2 separate regions of the Homo sapiens genome follow, and region 2 is linked to region 1. Evidence: fine-mapped expression QTL. A gene starts in region 1. The other region holds a variant in brackets. All regions are shown on one strand. Distances are between the middles of the regions.

What was found.
Region 2: its variant is fine-mapped to the expression of KCNN2 in esophagus muscle (GTEx, PIP above 0.99).

Annotation. Positions count from the first base shown.
Region 1 is chr5:114,358,506-114,366,844 of GRCh38, forward strand. KCNN2 (potassium calcium-activated channel subfamily N member 2) reads left to right here and starts at 3,565. Exons shown (of 8, transcript NM_021614.4): 1 at 3,565-4,756; 2 at 5,401-5,496. The coding sequence starts at 3,635. RefSeq lists an enhancer at 1,678-2,594 and a silencer at 2,633-2,842.
Region 2 is chr5:114,143,023-114,151,361 of GRCh38, forward strand. It overlaps a transcript of KCNN2 not described here. Among named protein-coding and RNA genes, the nearest start is that of KCNN2, 210 kb to the right of the region's middle. The variant A/G (reference allele first, on the strand shown) is at 3,904.

The DNA of each region.
Region 1 (8,339 bases):
ATTTGAAATACATTTTGTGGCTGAGTATGACCTCTGGTGTTAATCTAGGGAAATTCTCTCACTTATATGCTTTAATGGAACAAAAAGAAGGAAATTTAATTTTCTGAAAGCTTATCACTGGAAGTCATAGCCCTTGATCTGCGTCTTTTTTTTTCCCCCAATGTTTCTTCATTTCCTTCCTCTCTCCTTCTCTCTGTACTCACAAATATAAATAAGTATCTACTATGTGCAAACTACTATCCACGTGGAAGAATATTGCCTTTGTTGCTTCATTTAACTTTACATGTTACATGTATCTCTACAGTCCTGTGTAGAAAAAAAAGAAATCATGTTATGCACATTTTAAATGTCTACATATAAACTTAAAATTTGTTGACTTTATTAAAAGAGGAATGATGAAAATAAGAACTTCTTAAATGTGCCTGTTATAACCTAATAGTGTAAAATGCCTTAAATAATGAAGTTATGATTCAGACTAAAAATGAAACAAAATTATCTTGTGTTTTTTCATCATCATAGTAATACAGGTTTACCACACTCTCAATATACAGATATTTATTAGCAAGACGGCTGAGTGTGTGTAATCAGTTGATTTCTTAACAGAAAGCCGATAAATGTCTGATTGATTTGCTCTCTGTCCAATCACAGTGAGTTTTACATTATTAAATTATTTTATGAGCTTTTTCAAAATAGTGCTAGCCGGAAGTAGTATTAGTCTGAGTTTTGGTGTTCCGACAGTCCCTCATGTTGTGAATCAAATTTCCATTTTCTTCTGAATTTTGTGCATTCTATCCTCCTGTGTACCCCCTTGAAGAGAAGTGAGAACTCCATGCAACATTGCCATAAATCTCAGTAGGCAATTTCTGAGATGATTATTTCTACATGATTTCTACATGATTAATAGCACTGCAACTAATCCCATATTACAGCATAGAGATATACATGGCAAAAGATACATTTTTGCCTATTATTTTGGTTTTGGAGCCTCTGTTGAAGCCGTGAATTTGCTATTTGACAAAGTCAGTTTGACACAAGGGATGCAGCCATTATTTTTCTTATGACAGTTTAGTAACTGTAGAACCTTATATCTAATTTAATGCTGGCAACAACTATTATGATATTTCAGGGGTGGAGGCTATGTAATCTTTTATCTAAATTTATGAACGGCTAATAAAAATATTTATTAATTTACCATAATGTTCCTTTGAAGTATTTAGATTTGTAAGGATGAATCAAACATTTTCACTCAATCGCTACGTATAGCAACTGGAAAGCTACATAATTTGTTGAAAAGCGTCCTAATACATGTTTGATGGATTTTCCGCATGAGTTGAATTTCTTTTTCAGACCAGGTTAGTAACTTTTCATAGGGAAACTTTCATTTTAATTCAAATTACTTCGCAGGATTGTTTTGAATACTCATGCTTTCCACACAATTTATGCAGTATCTACTCAGCTGCCCCGAAGACTCAATTAGCTTCGTGATTCTAAAGAAGTTTTATTGAATTGCTATTTTGAAGATACAGAACAAAAATAGTAATAGATGATAAAAACAAAATGCTGTCTCTGATTGTTAGCCACTAAATTATATTCTTGACCAAGACCATTGAGAAATTCAATTCCGGACAGTATTAATTAGCTCAAGTCCAGGGCTACGGGACTAAAAGCAGCTGTGCACCCCCCACCCCTTTTTTTCTGCTGAATGTTTATTTGCACACACAAAAAATTAAAATTAACATGTGTCCAAAGAACATCATAAAATGAATTATTCATTCCATGGCATTGAAAGCGCACACACGCACACTCTGAAAAGCAGATACCAGGTAAGCAACTTTAGGGCAGCTGCCGAGTAGAATATCAAGAAATTGGATCCAGCTGAGAATTCCAATTACCTAATGACCTAATGAGGGTGATCCGCTTTCACTCTAATTGCTAGGTCTAACTCGTTGTAATAGTCTTTATCATGAAAAGCAGGCTTTAAAATAATTTAAAATGGAAACAAATATTCAACGGGCCAATTTCTTTCACCTTCTTTAGGGGGAGACGGGAATTTGAATTCACAAAGAAATGCAAATGTAAAGACTTAAGATGGAGCAGAAACAAAGAACATAAGGATCACCTAGTGCATTGTGTTGGTACATCTCTTAGAAGAAGACAGCACAGGGAATTTGTGAGACACCAAATGCAATTTTTGTTAGTTTATTAGAGAGTAAATAAATAAATAATGATACCGAACTCCAACAAAACTCCAGCACTGTCCGTGGGCAGCGACTATTCAGCCCAAGCTATCATTCTTAATTTCCCTGCCAGGCTGCGACTACCGGGGTGAATCAGCCCGCGCCAGGCCCCTTTCCCACCCGCCGCTGCAGTTAGGACTTGGCAAAGATGCTCGATATTTGCGTATTTGTGACCGGTCTTTGCTTTGTGTCTGCGCTGCAGGTGAGGAGGAGGAAGAGAAGCAGAAGAGCAGCTGGAGGCCGGCGGTGGCTGAGCAGCCCCCACACCTTTGAGCGAGCCGCCTGCCTCTCCACCGGCAAGGAAGCCCTGGGACCTCCGGATTCGGGCTGCCGGAGGGCCTGAGCGCCAGAGCCCAGGACCCGGCGGCCGGGGGCGCCATCCCCTCATGTTCTGGAGAAGGCGCAAATGTGAGCTGGCGGTAGCGGGGAAAGCCCTCCGCCCCCGCCAGGGGGGACCCGGGAAGCCCGGCCGGCTCTGTCGGCAGACTGCGGGGATCCCCTCCTCCGGCCCCGCCCCCACCCACCCCCGGCCGGGGTGCCGAGGCGGTTAACCCTACCCGCGCCGCAGCGCACTTGGGCTAGAGCGCCGCGCACCCAATCCAGATTCCAGAGCCTGCCGGCTGGGAAAGATCCGGTCTCGGGGTCGGCTATGATCCCGCAGCGGCCAAGGCAGGGCTCAGGCCCCGGGATTCTCCCCACACGCTGCTGCACTGGCGCAGCCGGTCGCCAAACTTTTTCTCCCCAAAGCCAGTGCCCCCGCAGTTACTTGGCGGGCAGCCGGCAGCCCACTCTCGGCGGGATGATCTGGGAGAAGCGGGCGTGGGACGAGGGGGCTGCTGTTTTGCAGCCCTGCGAGGCGTGCAGTCGGAGAAGTGGTCGGGGTTCCACACCGTCCCTGAGCCTGCCCCCGGCCAAGGTGGCCCGACGTGCTGCAGTGGCTGGCGCAGGTGATCCGGGCAGCGCGTCCGGCACTAGTCAAGGGGGCAGCGGCACGGGAGGGAGGGGCGCCTTTCTCTTTTCTCCTCCCCCTGCAGCCCAGCTGCACTGCGTGGGGGCTCTCCATCTCCACGCAATCAGCAGGCGGAATCCCTGCCCTGGAGCGCCCTGGCTCTGGACTGCACCCCCCTAGGGTTTGTCCTGCAGATTCCCCTCCCCATCTTTCTCTGCCACACACGCTTCCCTAAGCCGCGCGCGCCGCAAACTCAGTCTCGGTCCCCGCAGGTGATGTCATGCCCATTGTTTTGGTGCGCCCAACCAATCGGACTCGCCGCCTGGATTCTACCGGAGCCGGCATGGGCCCTTCCTCGCACCAGCAGCAGGAGTCCCCGCTCCCGACCATAACGCATTGCGCAGGGTGCACCACCGCTTGGTCTCCCTGCAGCTTTAACAGCCCTGACATGGAAACCCCATTGCAGTTCCAGCGCGGCTTCTTCCCAGAGCAGCCGCCGCCGCCGCCGCGCTCCTCACACCTGCATTGCCAGCAGCAGCAACAGAGCCAGGACAAGCCGTGCCCGCCCTTCGCGCCCCTCCCGCACCCTCACCACCACCCGCACCTCGCGCACCAGCAGCCGGCCAGCGGCGGCAGCAGCCCATGCCTCCGGTGCAACAGCTGCGCCTCCTCCGGTGCCCCGGCGGCGGGGGCGGGAGATAACCTGTCCCTGCTGCTCCGCACCTCCTCGCCCGGCGGCGCCTTCCGGACCCGCACCTCCTCGCCGCTGTCGGGCTCGTCCTGCTGCTGCTGCTGCTGCTCGTCGCGCCGGGGCAGCCAGCTCAATGTGAGCGAGCTGACGCCGTCCAGCCATGCCAGTGCGCTCCGGCAGCAGTACGCGCAGCAGTCCGCGCAGCAGTCGGCGTCCGCCTCCCAGTACCACCAGTGCCACAGCCTGCAGCCCGCCGCCAGCCCCACGGGCAGCCTCGGCAGTCTGGGCTCCGGGCCCCCGCTCTCGCACCACCACCACCACCCGCACCCGGCGCACCACCAGCACCACCAGCCCCAGGCGCGCCGCGAGAGCAACCCCTTCACCGAAATAGCCATGAGCAGCTGCAGGTACAACGGGGGCGTCATGCGGCCGCTCAGCAACTTGAGCGCGTCCCGCCGGAACCTGCACGAGATGGACTCAGAGGCGCAGCCCCTGCAGCCCCCCGCGTCTGTCGGAGGAGGTGGCGGCGCGTCCTCCCCGTCTGCAGCCGCTGCCGCCGCCGCCGCTGTTTCGTCCTCAGCCCCCGAGATCGTGGTGTCTAAGCCCGAGCACAACAACTCCAACAACCTGGCGCTCTATGGAACCGGCGGCGGAGGCAGCACTGGAGGAGGCGGCGGCGGTGGCGGGAGCGGGCACGGCAGCAGCAGTGGCACCAAGTCCAGCAAAAAGAAAAACCAGAACATCGGCTACAAGCTGGGCCACCGGCGCGCCCTGTTCGAAAAGCGCAAGCGGCTCAGCGACTACGCGCTCATCTTCGGCATGTTCGGCATCGTGGTCATGGTCATCGAGACCGAGCTGTCGTGGGGCGCCTACGACAAGGTACAGGCTTGAACCCCAGCCCACGCTACCGGAGTCGGGCACTGGGTGGTTGGGATGGGCACTGGCGGGGACCCTTTGCGTGCGGATCCCTAGCCTCTCCGGGACGATCAAGGGAGCCCGCCAGGACAGCGGGCGCGTCTAGGACGCGCATCCGTAGTCAGCTAAACAACTCGGAGATGAACCCTTTCCGCGTGCAGCCAAAGTTCTCGAGGCAGTTAAGAGTGCTCAGCGCATTCGGGCACCTTAAGTAAGTGGTTCTGGAAGTCGGTGGGGAAACCATCTGTAATTCATCCCCTCGTGAATTATGTTTAGAAGGGCCCTTTCAACCCGCTCTCTTGAACTCAGAAGTAAGTTCCTCTGGTTTTGCTAGCCTGGAACAGCGGCGCTCGCTTCGGTCCTCTATGGCGTGGACCCAGCAGCCCAGCCACGCGTCTTCCCAGTCTTTCCAGGTCTACTCTCGTCTCTTTTGGTTTTGAGGCCGAGTGATCTGACAGATCACAGAGCCAAGACAGGTGCACCCCTCTCCCCTTATCTTCCTTCTGTGAGTTCAGGTCCACCTGTGGGGGACTGACTGACTCTGGGGACGTGGAAGGCGGTTAAAAGTGCTTCTTTCTTAAAAGTGCTTCTGTCTGACTGTGTTGCAGGCGTCGCTGTATTCCTTAGCTCTGAAATGCCTTATCAGTCTCTCCACGATCATCCTGCTCGGTCTGATCATCGTGTACCACGCCAGGGAAATACAGGTAACTTAGGTCCTGCTGTTTATGAATGACCCAAAGCCCTACAGTCAGCCTAGAGAAACGCAAGGCAGCAGAGGCTTTTTTCAAGCCATCATGTCCTTGCTTGAGGTTACAGAAGACACATGCTGTATTGTTACCGTTAGCACCTGACCTGTTCTTTCAGGAAGTGGAAAACAACACAAGGCAGGGTAGCATATAAACATGCAGCATTTTCTGAGGTGTATTTGTTGGACCCTTAAGATTTTTACTTCTCTTCAGTAGGTGGATCCTTTTCTCCAGATCAGTCACATTTTGTTCCTTAAGGCCAGTTATGCTCTAGTTTTAATCTGGAATGAACTTGTGTTCTTGTTTGAGACACCTCTTCCTAGTGGGTGCGTCATTATGGGAGATTGTATCTATCTATATAATCTTCTGTAATTTAGCATAGAGAAGAAAACTGGGTGATGAGTTGCCAGCTAATTTATATAAATGAGATATGGGAAAAGATCTAACCCCTTCCTAAATCCCCCACCATTAAAAAAAACTGTTGTAAGTTTAGAATGCAAATTCTGTGTATCCAGTCATGAAGTATTTTTTAAAATGTAATTTAAGAGTTAAGGCCACTGTCCTTGTGAGTTCTTTTTTTTTTTTTTGAAAATATTTCTTTTGTTTAAATGCAGCCAGGAGCTCTATATTTGACTGTTAGTATCCATATCAGAATGCTCTATAAAACTTACGGGTCATCTTGTCAGTTGTTAGCCTACACAGGAATATTAAGGCTTTTAAATTAAAATAAGTATAGAGTTTTCAAAAATTAGATTGGGACTTTTTTCAGCTTAGAATTTGCACTGTGTGGGAGGCGCGGTGGCTCAGTCCTGTGGTCCTGGTGCATGAGAATTTGCACTATGTATTTTCTGAGTTTTTTTTTTTCTTTTTTGAGCAGTTGTTAGACATTTGGTGGTACTTTGAGACCCTTAATTTAGGCCATCTTCCTTTAGACTGCCTCAGATTTAAGCTGCCTTTCAATTTAAAATCTTATATAGGATTTGCCTTTGAAGTAATTTAGTATTAATTTAAATTAAATTAATTTTAAATTAGTAATTAGCAAACACAAAGTAAATATGGAAGAAATCGTTTTTAATGATGCCCAGACAAAATAGTGATGCACATTACTCCAAGTGCAGAGGGAGAAATTACTTCACGTTGCCTTTATACTTGTAAAACTTTGAAAAATGTGTTTTTGAAGGGATGAGGTTGGAGAATGATAATTAGAAAGAGTGAGACTACTCAGAAATAAATTACAAAACTGCACTGACAAAATGAGATGAACACACATTTGAATTTTTTAAAGTTTTAACAGTTTACATAGATTCATCTTTAATTCAATACTAGTGATGGTTGGGCTTTTGAGATTATTTTGAACATTTTAAAGTGATACTAAAATATAACTTAAACATTAGAAATTTATCTTTTCATTTTGACTTGAAGAGTAGACAATTAGAGCTGGAAGGAACAAAATAGGTTTAATGGTCCTTTGACTCAGTTTACAGATAAGGAATCTGAAATCAGCAGAGGTAGCTTGCCGGGCCACACAGCTAGACAGTGCACAGTGAGAACCAGCCCTATCCTAGCTTCCAGGCCATAATGCTTCCTCTGCGAGCTGCTGCTACATGCCAAAAACTGTGAAACGTGAATATTTCTTTTTCTGCAGTTTCCCTCTAAATCCAAAAGTTTGGTATATAAATTCAGTTAAACTTAAAAGATCATTCCAAAATGTTCTTACATATTTTTAAAAATCAAGTTAACTTGAAAAATGTTTTGTTTGGAGGACAGAGTCGTTTTGCTTAATGATTCTGAAATGAGAGATCTTGCTGGGTTTTATTAAATATCAGCTTTGTGTTATTGCCTGTTCCTTGTGAAAATCACACAGCTAAAGAAACATTCATGGGGGAGGACATTTGCTGGTATTAACATCAAAAACAAAGTGTCTTGAAAACATTGACTCTTTAAGAATTATTGGGAGATTTTTTGAAGTAATTCATAGGAGTCTAAGAGCTACCAAATGTTAACTATTTGAAAAAATTGATGTCATATTAGAACGCTTAAAATTTACAGAAGTTTATAAAAAATCATATTTTTATAGATTAATGCTTGAAAGCATTCCACTCATTGGCTAATTTTGAGGACCATTTCAATTATGCATATGCACATATATTTTGATTAGGGTATGTATTGCATGGGTGAGAAAAATGACATGGAATGACTCTCCACGGCAAATATGCACAGTGAACTTCCTTACTGTTGGTCAACATAAACGTTATAGAATGATATATGTTTTAAAATTCGGTTTATTTTATATGATATGTGGTTTCTGTTAAACCCACTATACTTAAGATAATTTCAAAATAGATGCTTGGGTCATGTCATTTAATTAATTTGGATGTAGCTTTTTTACTCGGTGTATTATCTAGAGGGATTTCTCCTTTAAGCTGAAGCTCCAAATTCTTATCTGAGATGCTTTTATTAAAAAATAAATAAATAAAATGGAGAAGGGCCAAACAAATGTGAAGACCCTGAACTGGAAGTCAAGAACCAGAAAAAGGTAAAGATGTTCTAATTTGTCCAGAGAAGAGCGTCAGCAGGGCTGTCAAATACCTTATTCTGAAACACAATGAAACCAACTGCTCAGGCTTATGTATATGCATGGAAAATGATGAATTGCCCCCCGCCCTCCTTTTTTACTTATTGATGTCACTGCTGTGGGTATATATGTTTTTTCATAAAAAGTTTTAAGCTAATGAGCACTTCTCAGCTCACGCTAAATAATTCCAAATATATCAATTAGCTTTGAGTTAAGAAACTAAATG
Region 2 (8,339 bases), 220 kb before region 1:
GGTCAAGAAATAATAAACGCACACAAGATAGTGAAAGCTGGGTCCAGGGGGGTCACCGCCTTCTGGTCCCAAGATGCTGCCAATGCACTGGATATACCAGCATTTATTATTAATTTTAGTGAGGGTGGGGGTAGATTAGTAAGAAATTTAGGGTCATTTGATTATGAGGTGAGATGGTCACATGGGAATGAAGTAATTCTTTAACAGAACATCTGTATACAGAAGTACAGTATACAGAGATAAAAATTTACAATATAGTGTGTGCATCAGTAATTTCTAACAGAGCCTTAAAACAGAAACACAGTCTTTCCATAACCTATGATTGGGAAGATATTAATCAGTAGTAATAGTTGCAGCAAAAGCTGGTTACAAACAATCCATAGAAACAACGTGATGCTAGACAACCGGTTAGACCAAAAATTCTCAGAAGGGAGTATGCCTTAACCCTAAAGAGGCCTAAAAGAGCCATGGCAAAATGAGAGCGTTTATAGCCCTGTCTTATCCCTATGAACAGGTGCCCCTCGTGCGTCCATTTATAGGCTCTCCACAAGGGTCGCATTCCATACCCAGAGCTATGAACATCTGTTTTTCTGTGATAGGAATCTTGGTGATGTGAAACCTCCGTGACTGCACGTCCATTCATAGGCTTTTTGCAGTGGGAAGTACTTCATGTGCCGTTGGCTCATTCTGGCAGTCCAGCCTGGCATTGTCTTTACACAATCCTGCGTGCAACTTTGTATTTACAATAATCAGGAACATTTCATCTTTTATTCTGTAGTAGCAATAGTTTCAGGGGGTCTCCCTACATCTCCCCCTTTTCTCTGATTTAAATGAACCGTAGCAATCATAGCTTGGCACTGATCATGATTGGACTGAAGAATATTTTTTCTAGTTTTACACATGAATAATAAAGCAATAGCACAAATTATACACGAACAAAATTAACGATTGTGGATCCTCCCAAAAATTTTACCCATTGAATGGTGTTGAGATTAGATAACCCGTCAGATATACTGTCTAAAACTTCAGCACCAGGTAAAGCAGTTAAGTGTGCTTGAGAGGCCTCAAAAATCTGTTCTTTTAGCTTGCTTATGTCTAAACTTAAATTACCTTCAGTTCCTTGTCAATGGCGTTTTACTGATTCCCAATTGTGAACAGACTCATTATGTTGAAACGGAGTTATACAAAAATCAGAAGTATTCCAATCACATTGCATTTGTGATCTTTGTTCTAAACTCATAATTCTATCTCCCATCCATATAACAGTTTGTCTTAGATCATTAATTTGGCCAATTTTTGATCAATACCTGACTGAGAATTCCACATCCAAGTAGAATTTTTTTGCCATTTATCCACAAAATGGGCAGTTTGAATTGATTGATGTAATGGAACTCCAGCAGTAGCAGCAGTCACCGTAGCAGCAATCAAGCCCATCATTACTGCAATTAATGTAAAAATAAATAGTTTACTCCTTTTAAGAATTTTTTGTAGAATATTGTTAATAACATGGAGAGAGGGGAAAGATTCCCAAGGCCTATGTAAGGCTACGGGGAGCCAAATACCTTCTCTGGCTCTGACTATTAAAATGCTATGATACTGATTAAAGGATGAGTCAATACAAGTATACAAGTAACAATTAACACAGGTAATTATGTTGGTTTTTGAACTAGTATGCATCTTTCCTACTAATAACATATATGGTGGTTTAACACAACTTTTAAGTAGTATAGTTTTGTTGGATTCCATATAGACAGTGTATATATTTTGGGATGGTACTCTGTGAATGTGGGGTGGGGGGAATAGGTTGTATGAGAGGTGGTGGGGGGACATTAGTGATGGGGGGGTATAAGTCCTCATAATCTTTACTGTCCCATCTTTGAATTGACCTTTTGACGATTGCCATAGTGATATTTTTGGCTGTGTGGAAATAGTAGTGTAAATCAATCTGTTGTCTTAGTTTTTGAGGTGACAAGGTGGATTTACTTATAACACTTTCTCCAGCCCAAACTCTCATACCAGTCATAGCTATGGTTAATCTCCATAATTCTGAATGTTCAGGTCCTAAGTGGGGAACAATGAGCCTTGGCTTTGGAGGGGCAACCCCTGCCCCTTTCCACTTAAAAGGAAAAAAGGAGTTAAATCTACGATATAATAGGGGAGGGTTGTCACTACTTTTTTGTAAGTAATATTATAGAGAAAATGTTGACAATCTGTGACCCTGAGAGCAATCATTAGTAATATGACCTTTAGGAGCCCAATCAACAATGGTATAGTGAGAAGAATTAAATAACACAGTTCCTTCTGAACTAACACAATCCTTCCATATTAATTTGTTAGCATTTGAAGACACGTTGAGAGGACACACAGGTCCTAAAGGCTTATATTGGGATGTGTGAATATAATCAGCGAGCAATTCCTATTTTGATCTGCCTTAGAAGTTTTAATGAGAGCCCTGATACCAAGTGTCCTAAAGGAGGGACAGAGTGACCAGATGGTAGTGTGACTGCCCAAGTTTGAATATCTAATGAGAGATATCCATTAGTGGGTCCCAGGAACAAAAGTGGATACCTAAAACCTAAAGTGATATTGAAAGGGGTTCCGTCTTCTGAAGGTTGGGCAGGACAACGATCATCTACAGAACCAGGCATCCAAATACTATCATTAACATAGACCTGATAGGAGCGTCCATCCATATCATGGCTCAAATAAGAGGAGGAAAAGGAATATAGGCCCAATATGTATAGTTTTTAACAGTCTGTGGAGTGACACAGGGTAGAAGGATCAGTGTCATCAGGAGGGGGCAGAGGGTGAGCCGGACCTGGACCGCTGGAGACGAGTTGTTTAGGATGGCTGACTGGATTGTCTGTTGTAAAGGAGTTAGCGTGGTTATTTTTTTTCTTTTTGACGGTTGGATGTGCTAGTTGTTTCCTGCTGTGGCATTTTTTCAGCAAATTTCTCTGTCTCGTTGTTGCATGCATCTTCAGGACACAATTTCAGGTGTCTAGCAGGAATGCAAACAGGAGGTTGATGTTCACCTGGGGAAACACAAGCATAGCCTCTTCCCCACGTTAAAATAGAAGCTTTTGACCATATATTAGATTGAACATCTTTCCACCATACTTCCCTTACTTGGTTTATTGTCAGATGGTTACCAGAAAAAATGTTTTTCGGTGACAGTAACAGAACTAGATTTAGGAATATTAAGAAAATTTAACATGAGCAATGCCAAGTTTAGTTGTATGTGAGGGGTAGACAACTCCTTATCCCCCTCTTTTGTTTAAGTAATTATAATTTTAAAGTTCTGTTACTTCTTTCTACAATAGCTTGGCTTTGTGGGTTATAAGGAATACCAGTAATATGTTTAATATGCCACTGATCAAGAAAATTTTTAAAAGCTTTACTGCAATAGGCTGGACCGTTGTCTGTTTTGAGCTCACTAGGAATTCCCATAACTGCAAAACATGAAAACATATGTTTTTAACATGAGAAGTGGCTTCTCCGGTTTGACAGGTATCCCAGATGAAATTGGAAAAGGTGTCAACTGTGACATGCACGTAAGCTAATTTTCCAAAAGAAGGAACATGAGTAATATCAATTTGCCAAAGAGCATTAGGAGAAGGCCTCAGGGATTAACTCCAGTGTTGAGACAATCTCAACACTGATATTGAGAACAGTATTGTACAATTTGTTTAGCTTGTTTCCAACTCAGAGAATATTTATGTTTAAGACCTGAAGCATTAGTATGAATGAGTTGATGAAATTGTTCTGCATCTGTAATGGCTAGAGAAACTAGAATATCAACTTTATGATTACCACTGGATAAAGGTCCAGGCAAATTAGTATGAGATCAAATGTGAGTGATGAAAAAGGGGTGGTTTCAGTTTCTGACAGGTTTTTGTAACA[A/G]AGAGAACAAGGAAAACAGATTAGTGTCAGCAATATTTTTGATGGTAGCTGTTTCTATTGCCTTAGTGACAAGCACTATATAAGCTGAGTCAGAGACAATATTAAGAGGCTGATCAAAATCTTGTAATGCAGAGATAACAGCAAACAGCTCGGCTTTTTGAGCAGAAGTGTATGGAGTAGAAATGACTTTATCTTTTGGTCTTACGTACACTGCCTTTTCATTACTGGATCCATCAGTAAAAATGGTAACACCTGCCTCTAGTGGTGATGAACGAGTAAGTTTTGGTAGAATCCAGGAAGTGTTTCGTAGACATTGAAAGAATTTTGGCTTAGGCAGATGATTATCAATAGTGCCAGTGAAGTCAGCCAGATTAGTCTGTGCCAGCACAAGGATGTAGAAAAGGCATTTTTAACCTCATTTTTTGACAAAGGGACCACAATAATGTTTGGATCAAAGCCGGAAATTTTAGTGATACGTTGACGTCCTAACCCAATTGAAGTGACCATTTGATCAAGATATATTGAAAGAGTTTTAGAGGCTGAATTAGGAAGAAATACCCATTCAACAAGAGAATCATTTTGTACTATAAGTCCTGCAGGACAGTGGATGAAAGGAAAAACTAAATTTGTAAAGGCAAATTTGGGTCAATATGAGAGACTTGTCCCTCTTTCACTCATTGTTCTACAAAAGACAACTCTTTTTCTGCTGGTTCAGATAGACAGTGAGGACTGTTTAGATCTGTATCTCCTGATAAAGTAGCAAATAGATGAGATAATGCATAAGTAGGGATGCCTAGGATTGGTCTGAGATAATTGATGTCACCTAGTAATTTTTGAAAATCATTTAAGGTGTTTAAATTGTCAGTATGAAGTTGGACTTTTTGGGGCTTAATGGCGCGAGCTTCTAGGTGCGTTGGTGCATTCCTAAGTACAGAAAAGGAGTGGCTTGTTGAATTTTATTAGGAGCAATGTGGAGTCCTGCATTGGCAACAGCTAATTTTAAAGAGGTAAAACATTGAATTAATTCATCTTTAGTAGGAGCAGCAATCAGTATATCATCCACATAACGAAGAATGTAATTATTTTTAAAAATCTGTCGAATAGATTGTAACACAGTACTGACAAACAACTGGCAAATAGTAGGACTGTTAATCATTCCTTGAGGTAAAACTTTCCATTCATATCTAGCTGTAGGAGCTGAATTGTTAATGGAAGGTATAGTGAGAGCAAATTTTTCACAGTCTGACTTGTCTAAAGGAATATGAAAAAAGTAGTCCTTAAGGTCAATGATAATTAAAGGCCATTTCTTAGGAATCGTGGAGGGGGAGGGCATACCAGGTTGTAACACCCTGATAGGTTTAATAACTGCATTAACAGCTCTTAAGTCTGTTACCATCCTCCATTTTCCTGACTTTTTTTGTGCAACAAACACAGACGAGTTCCATGGAGACAAGGAGGGCTCAATAATGTTTGCTTGTAGTAAATCATTAACAATTTCAATTAAAGCCTCCAACTTGTGTTTGGAAATTGGCCACTGCTCTACCCAAACAGGTGACTCATACATCCATTGTGTAGAGGCAGAGGAAGAGAAGGAGAGTGAGGGCACTGGGACGTGGACTTGGGGGAGACAGGATTCTAAGCCTCTGAAAGAAGGGGTCCTGGAGTGTCGAAAGAAACAGTAGGCTTAGAAGAGGGGAGAGTTCTAAAAGGATGAGAGGAATGAGAAACAGGCCATTCAGATGAATGCCACATGTCCTCCTCTGGCAGAGGGGGCAATGGCTTAGTAGAAGAAGAGTTAACATATACAGGTTCCAAGATAGGAGGTGGAGGGAGGGGATCATCACCAGGTTCCTCCTCTTGGGGAGAAAACAAGGAGAGATCAAATTCCTCATCATGATCAGAAGGAGGACTAGTAGGGGGTCAGCTACTCGAGGTACAGGGAGCGGCTCACCATCCGTGTTAACTTGTGGCAGTTGAAGAGGATCACCAGACTGAAAAGGAAGTAAAGTGACCTGAATAAGAGCCCAGTCAGCCCAACCAGAAATAGGAAGTAAAACACCATCTCTCATGAGTTGGCAGAGGGTGGTGCCAACTCTATCCCAGTCTAACAGGTCCATAGAACCTTTGTCAGGGAACCAAGGACAATATTTTTCAATAGTCTGAAATAAGAGAATAAGGTTATAGGAATCAGCCTGGATTCCACCCTGTTTAAGAAGACGTTTAATAAAAGACAGATAAGCCTGGTGTTTAGAATGTGATTGTCCCATAATAACCCTGGAATAATACCAGTTGACAAACCTGAAAAGAGGGGAGAGTCAGAAAAGGTGTACCTGGAGACCTTATCGTCGAGACCGAAGACTAGTCATCATGAACCCACACTCAGAGTGCACTGAGCCGAGGAACAAAGAAGGCCATATTGGGTGCCAGATATTGCAGGATCTGGCCAGCAGCCCACAGTGCAGCGGGGCTCTTTCCTTATTCCTAGGCAGATCGACAGGTCGAGAAATAATAGACACACACAAGATAGTGAAAGCTGGGTCCAGGGGGGTCACTGCCTTCTGGTCCCGTGATGCCGCCAATGCACTGGATATACCAGCATTTATTATTAAGTTTAGTGAGGGCGGGGGTAGGTTAGTGAGGGATTTAGGGTCATTTGATTATGAGGTGAGATGGTCACATGGGAATGAAGTAATTCTTTAACATAACATCTGTATGCAGAAGTACAGTATACAGAGATTAGAATTTAAAATATAGTGTGTGCATCAGTAATTTCTAACAGAGCCTTAAAACAGAAACACAGTCTTTCCATAACCTATGATTAGCAAGATATTAATCAGTAGTAATAGTTGCAGCAAAAGCTGGTTACAAACAATCCATAGAAACAGGACGTGAAGCTAGACAACCGGTTAGACCAAAAATTCTCAGAAGGGAGTATGCCTTAACCCTAAAGAGGCCAAGAAGAGCTGTGGCAAGATGAGGGCATTTATAGCCCTGTCTTATCCCTATGAACAGGTGCCCCTCATGCGTCCGTTTATAGGCTCTCCACAAGGGTCGCATTCCATTCCCAGAGCTATGAACATCTGCTTTTCTGGGATAGGAATCTTGGTGATGTGAAACCTCCCTGACTGCATGTCCGTTCATAGGCTCTCTGCAGGGGGAAGCACATCACGTACTGTTGGCTCATTCTGGCAGTCCAACCTGGCATTGACTTTACATAGTCCTGCGTGCAACTTTGTATTTACAATAATCAGGAACATTTCGTCTTGTATTCCGTAGTAGCAAGAGTTTCAGGGGGTCTCCCTACATACCTGACTTCAAACTATACTACAAGGCTACAGTAACCAAAACAACATGGTACTGGTACCAAAACAGAGATATAGACCAATGGAACAGAACAGAGTCCTCAGAAATAATACCACACATCTACAACCATCTGATCTTTGACAAACCTGAAAAACCAGTAAAACTTTCTTCACTTCCATTCTTTTGCCTATAACAGAAAAGTAGAGAAAGTAAAAATGTTTGGTTTACAAAGATAAGTGGCCTCTTTAACCAAAGAAAATCAAAACGTCGACAGCATGAAAGACCAAAGATACCTCCCCACATTCCCTGAGCTGACCCTTGTCATCTTACACAAAGCCTTTGGTCCACTGGCCAGGGGTCCTATATCTGGCCAATTTAATATGAGGGCTCAGGAATCAGACCCGTCTTTTCCTGTGACAAGAAGTCAAATGGAAACTACACCAAGGGCCAAATACCTGTATCTTACAGGACTCAGAAACTAGGCAGCTTCTTATAAAAACCAAATAAGCAAGGCCGGGCACAGTGGCTTACACCTGGAATCCCAGAACTTTGGAAGGCTGAAGCAGGCAGATCACCTCGGGTTGGGAGTTCAAGACCAGCCTGACCAACATGGAGAAACCTCATCTCTACTAAAAATGCAAAATTAGCCATGCATGGTGGTGCATGCCTGTAATCCCAGCTACTCAGGAGGATGAGGCAGGAGAATTGCTTGAACCCGGGAGGCAGAGGTTGCGGTGAGCTGAGATGGCGCCATTGCACTCCAGCCTGGGCAACAAGAGTGAAACTGTGTCTCAAAACAAACAAACAAACAACAACAAAAAAACAAATAAAGCAAGATTCCTTTCAGGCACAACTTTTTAATTTGTTTTGTTTTTGAATTTTTTTTTTCTTTAAAATCAAATATCACTGAGAAACTTTCTAGTGTAAAACAGATCTGTTACATTTGGGTAGAGTTGAGAAAAAAATGATTCTTTTGGCTTTCTTTTTCTGGTAATAGAAATCACAGAGCTTAAGGGATCTTAGAGCTAACCCTCTCACTCATTTTTGATTTTTGAAACTATTAATAAGTTAAAACTTGATTAAATGGCAGTGGGTTGGGGACAGGGCTCAGGTACCCCCAGCCCCTTCTTTAC